2 separate regions of the Homo sapiens genome follow, and region 1 is linked to region 2. Evidence: fine-mapped expression QTL. A gene starts in region 2. The other region holds a variant in brackets. All regions are shown on one strand. Distances are between the middles of the regions. Region 1 overlaps PLB1 (phospholipase B1). Region 2 holds the start of SPDYA (speedy/RINGO cell cycle regulator family member A).

What was found. PIP is the estimated chance that this variant, and not a neighbour inherited with it, causes the effect. A credible set is the group of variants that fine-mapping cannot tell apart.
Region 1: its variant is the best candidate, but not a certain one, in a credible set for the expression of SPDYA in whole blood (TOPMed, PIP 0.61).

The regions. Positions count from the first base shown.
Region 1 is chr2:28,623,551-28,626,454 of GRCh38, reverse strand. PLB1 (phospholipase B1) reads right to left here. Exons shown (of 58, transcript NM_153021.5): 50 at 1,347-1,398; 51 at 1-27. Among named protein-coding and RNA genes, the nearest start is that of PPP1CB-DT, 130 kb to the left of the region's middle. RefSeq lists enhancers at 1,226-1,385, 1,476-1,625. The variant G/C (reference allele first, on the strand shown) is at 1,516.
Region 2 is chr2:28,809,226-28,812,129 of GRCh38, reverse strand. It overlaps SPDYA (speedy/RINGO cell cycle regulator family member A), which reads right to left and starts at 1,296. Exons shown (of 8, transcript NM_182756.4): 1 at 1,183-1,296. RefSeq lists silencers at 1,266-1,515, 1,546-1,695.

The DNA of each region.
Region 1 (2,904 bases), 190 kb after region 2:
CTTCCAGTCTTTCTCCAGGTTGATGTCCTGAGGGGACAGAAGATCCTGAGTTTAGGCCTTGGTGGGAGGCACATACAAATGTTGCTACTGGGCCAGCCCGCCCGCCCTCCAAGTGCCTTTTGTCTTATTTATACTGTAACAGAGAAAAGCAGCAAATTGGGCCAGGCACGGTGGCTCACACCTGTAATCCCAGCACTTTGGGAGGCTGAGGCAGGTGGATCACCTGAGGTCAGGAGTTCGAGACCAGCCTGGCCAACATGATGAAACCCCGTCTCCACTAAAAATACAAAAATTAGCCTGGCCTGGTGGCAGGTGCCTGTAATCCCAGCTACTTGGGAGGCTGAGGCAGGAGAATCACTTGAACCCAGGAGGCAGATGCTGCAGTGAGCTGAGATCGCACCACTGCACTCCAGCCTGGGTGACAGAGCGAGACTCCGTCTAAAAAAAAAAAAAAAAGAAAAGCAACAAAGTGGGGCTTCCCAGCCCTCAATTGGTGCTAGGATAAGGTGCTCCACAGAGAGGATGTTTTTTTTTTTTGGCGGTGGGCGCTGGCGGGGGACGGGGTTCTGCTTACACAAGGGAGGGCTATTTTCCCCTTGAAATCTTAAGAAAGTTGTGTCCCTGGAGAAGTAGAATGTGGATGTGTCCCACATATCCTTGGCCCATTAAATGCCGAGGGGATTACCACGTCCCCCCAAATGAAGGCCTTCCAGGGAGCTGTAGGCAAAGGATGCAGCTAGAAGCAAAGGCCCTAAGCTGCCCCTGGGATGAGTTCTTAGGGTCGGGGGAAGGAGACTGGAGGAAGAGCCCAGCGTGGACTGAGAAGCGGGGTTGGGGCTGGGAGGCCCTCTAAGCAGTTGGCTTTCCACTTGGCCACCTCCATAATAGGAATCCCACCGGGAGCTGAATTCCTAGGCATAAACACTGAACGGTTAAAAAAAAAAGTGCTAGTGAGAAGTTTCAGAGGGGCAGGGTGAGGGGAAGGAGGCAGAACTGGATTGGAATGAGAAGCCTATTTTTAGAACCTTGCATTTACATAATAGGGCTCTGGGAAGCCACCTCTTGGTTAAAGCAGGAAGCTGTCAGAGGCCAAGGCCACCACCTCAGCCAACTCCCTGTTCCACCTTGCCCTCCCGCAGCCGGCCCTGGGGTGAGGGGTGCCACAGCCTGCGTCTAGGAGTGTGGCCAGGGCAGGCGCCTCCTTGGTAAGGACTGCTTCTCCGAGGATCTTTTGGCTAGCCCAAAGCAGGAAGTGCTGTGGTGAGAGGGACCCTTATGGGGCTGTCCCCTCCCCAGCCAGCAGGAGATGGGCACCTTTCAGGGGTGGCCTGGGGGCCTGTACTCACGGGGCTGTTTTTCATTCGCTCTACCAGGTCCCAGGCCTGGGCTGGCATGTCCCTAGGTGGGGGGTAGAGAGAGGGGCGTTAGTGCCGGCTCAGGAGCGAGGACTCACGACATGGGATTTTGGCCTAGGAAGAGAGGTGTTTCAAGAAGAATGATGTTACCAGTACAAAG[G/C]TCATTCCATTCTCAAGAAATCTCAGCTTAGTAACAATCACATGGCTGCCCTGGACCCTGGAGCCACATTGATCTAGCCCCTGCCACCCAATAGTCTCATCGGCCACTCGGGTTGGGATCCCGTCAAGCCTCCCCTCAGGACTTTCCCTTATACTTCCTCAAGCTCTTTCTTCGTAAGCCAAGCCTGTTCATTTCTTCTTCAGTTGCCTGTTTTAAAAATAACCTTTTGTATATTTGAGAAAAGTCACAGCTCTCAATTATCCCTCAGTTTTCTCCTTTCCAGGCTTAATGACTCCTTTAACCTTTACTTCTAAGCCCTGCTCTCTGCTCCTTTAATCCTTTTGTTTTTCTTTTCTGTGGTTACTTAGATTTCCGCACCATTCCCCATCTCCTCACTTTTTTTTTTCTCCCTCTCCAATAAACCAGGATGGACAGGATTAGTTCTCCCTTCATCCCCTGATGTCTGCCATAAATAAAACAATACCATTTGGTGTTCTGGATGAGCGATATGAATGCCAACGGAACACTACTCAGCCATAAAAAGGGACGAACTATTGGTATACCGAATAACATGGATGCATCGCAAAATCATTTTGCTAAATAAGTCAGATAAAAAGTATATACTCTTTGATCCCATTTATATAAAATTTTTAAAAATGCAAACTAATCTATTGTGATGGAAAGAAGGTTAGTGGTTGCCTGGGGTGTGAGGTAGGGACAGGAAGGAGCAGGAGGGAGAGATTACCAAGGGGCCTGAGAAAACTCCTGTGGGTGATGAACACATTTTTCATCTTGATTGTGGTGATGATTTCACAGGTACAATGTTAAATTGTATCCTTTTTGAGACAGGGTCTTGCTCTGTTGCCCAGGCTGGAGTGTAGTGGTGTGATCACGGCTCACTGCAGCCTCAACCCCTCTGAGCTCAAGTGATCCTCCCATCTCAGCCTTCCGAGTAGCTGGGACTACAGGTCCATGCCACCATGCCCGGCTAATTTTTTGTATTTTTGGTAGAGACAGGGTTTCACCAAGTTGCTCAGACTGGTCTCCAACTCCTGGGCAATCTGCCTACCTTGGCCTCCCAAAGTGCTGGGATTAGAGGCGTGAGCCACCGCACCCAGCCAAATTATATCCTTTTAACATGTGACGTTTATTGCATGTCATTTATACCTCAATAAAGCTGTGTTTAAAGAAATGTCTGTGAGAAGTTAGGTCAGCAAAGGGGATATAGCCAATGAAAGTGTCCATGGAAGAAGCCATAAAAGCAGCAACCAGTGCGAGCTGGCCACTGAAAATCTTTGGGTGGCCACGGTAAGCTAGGTACGTGGCCAAACACACATGGTACCATCCCTACCCTTGTTTCTCATTAAGGAGAATTTACAGATCTAGGAT
Region 2 (2,904 bases):
TTAAAGAAGTTAAGAAATTTCCCAAAGGCTCATAGTAAGTGATAAAGCTAGAATTTGAATGCAGAACTGACATCAAAGTCCCATATTCTTTAACCAGTAAATCAGTTTTAAATATTAAATAAAATCATGTGTAAAACACTTGACACATAGTAAGCACTCCAGTATTACTTATCGTCACCTTGCCAAGAAAACAAAACCAGCTAACCCCAGCTATAAGGCGATCTCGGATCACTGCCACCTCTGCCTCCCGGGTTCAAGCGATTCTCCCGCCTCAGCCTCCCGAGGAGCTGGGATTACAGGCGCCCGCCACCATGCCAGGATACTTTTTTTTTAAGTTATTTTTTGTAGAGACGGGTTTTAGCTCACTGCAACCTCCGCTTCCAGGGTTCAAGCGATTCTCCCGCCTCAGCCTCCCAAGTAGCTGGGATTACAAGTGCGCACCACCATGCCCGGTTAATTTTTTTTTTCATTATTTTTTTGTAGAGACGGGGTTTTCGCTGTGGGCTGCTCTCGAATCCTGGCCTCAAGGATTCGCCCAACTCGGCATAAGGCTTTTTAAAAGATTGAGGCTAGGGGCCCTCCAGTCCTACTGGATGTCATGTAAGAGAATCTTCGTGAATTCTGAGAAATGAGCTACGGGCCTGGTACTGAGACACAGCAGCTCAGATCTCAAAATTCTGGGGCAGACGATCTTGGGGACAAAAAGAGGTGTTTAATGGGACATAAGGAGGTAGGATTTATCAAAAAGACCCCCCAAATCTCCATTCCTCCCACAATAAAGGCGGCAGGCACACGTGGAGACGGGAGCGCCTGCCCAGGGCCCTCCCTCCGAGCAGACGGCCGAGCTTCGGGAGCAGCCTCCGGTATCGGCCCTGCCCGTCCTTCCCCTGGAACCTTCACCCGCTACGCCGCCGGGCGGAGGGCGGCCAAAGCCCCAACCTGCGCGGCCACTGCCTCCCTCGCCAGGTCCCTCAGCCCAGAGCCCGCTGCGGGGAGCGCGTGTGTCGTCGCCGCGAAGGCAGCTGAGGGCGCCCACGGGAGGCGGCGTGAGGACGAGGCTGGAGCGCTGCCTTCTCATCTAAGGCGGGCGGTGGGGTCGCCGGCGAGCGAACCCAGGGACCGGGCACACTCGAAACTGGAGATTCGCCTGCGAGGCCCCTTCCCGGGGGCGAGCACAGGTACCTGCGGAAGCCCGGGGCTGCGCGGGAGAGGGCCGGGCAACGGCGGTCAAGGCTCCGTCGCAGCGCTCCTGGCCTCAGACGGTTGCTCGTCGGTCGCTAGCCAGCAGCGGTACCCGCTCTAAGGTCTCCCGCCAACCCGGAGCGAGGGAGCGCGAGGCCGGCAGGGGCCAATCAGCGCGCACAGCCGGCCGAGGGGGCGGGGCCTGCCTGGGAGTGCGCGCCGGCGAACCCCGCCCCTCCCTGCCCCCCGCCCGCCCGAGCCTCGGCCGCGGGCCTCCCTCCTCCGTTATCCCGCCTGCCCGCGCAAAACTCACACAACCCTCTTCATTCGACCTACCTCCCTTGGGCACGTCTCGCAGTCAGGCTTGCGTTGGGGCCGTTTACTTCCCTTCGATTAGACAACCAGGCCCCCGGGGCTGGGGCTGCGGCCTCCCCTCCCCGCCCGGCACACGCGGGCACAGCGTGGTTACCCTGGTTACTCAAAAGGAAGAGGCCGCTTGAACTGAGAAAAGCACAACGTGTGAATACGGTGGCTTCTTGTGAGAAGGGGCCATTCTATTGTAACTGTGAATCTGCAGCAGTAATCTTTTTGGCTTTGTCCTAGCCTTTGACTACGTGGGTGCTTAATACATGCATGTTGAATGAACAAATAAAAAGAATTCTAAACAGCTTTTTGATCCCATCCTTTCCTTATGTCCCTCCTAAGGTATAACCGGCTTTTTCTTTCTTTTTGAGACTGAGTCCCGCTCTGTCGCCCAGGCTGGAGCAGTGGCACGATCTCGGCTCACTGCATACCTCTGCCTCCCGGGTTCAAGCAGTTCTCCCGCCTCAGCCTCCTAAGTAGCTGGGACCACAGGTGCCGCCACGCCCGCCTAATTTTTAAACATGCCTTGTAGAGCAGAGTCCTATGTGGCCCAGGCTGGCCTTGAACTGAACTCAGGCAATCCTCCCACTGGGATTACAATCCTAAGCCACCACACCCAGTGTAAATCTTTTTTTTTTTTTTTTGGTCTCCATATCACGGCTTTTTTCATGTTGCTAGTCTTTCGAAACGTTTTCAATGACTGCATAATATTCCAGAGTGGATGGACCATTTAAGTCATTTCAATATTTGGATTGCTTCCAGATTTTTTGGCTAATACAATGATTACTCTTAAAAGGCAACCTGGCTCTGCCTACTTGTGGTACTTCCAGCAAATAGCTCCTCAATCAGCAGTTCTGAAGAACGAGTTAATTCCTTCCTTCTTGTGCTTCCACACACAGCACAATAATGACAAATTCACCTACAAGTACGAGGAGGGGGCCAACTGGGAACTTATTTTTCCTTACACATGCCCTTGACTCTTTCTCCCTGGCCTATAAATGGGAGAATGGGCCAAGAAGCATCAACTGGTTGTGAAAATCTTGAGGAAAATGGCTGCTTCAAGCTTCATTCCTCTAGCTTTTCCCTAAGGATCCTTCCTGACTTCTCTCTGCTCTTCCCCTTGTTTTTGCAAGGTACCGGTGTTGTGATGATTAATTTCCAGCCTCGAGTATAAAATATTTACTGAACAATTAATGTCCGCTACATGAAAAACACAGAGGCATGGCAAGTACCACAATGATGAAGACAACATGGCCTTACCTTTCTAGAGCTTCCAAGCTAGACAGATATGGACACAACTAAAATACAAGGCACAGTGAGTTGTGCCATGAAGGAAATGCAAGTGGCTGTATAACGCAC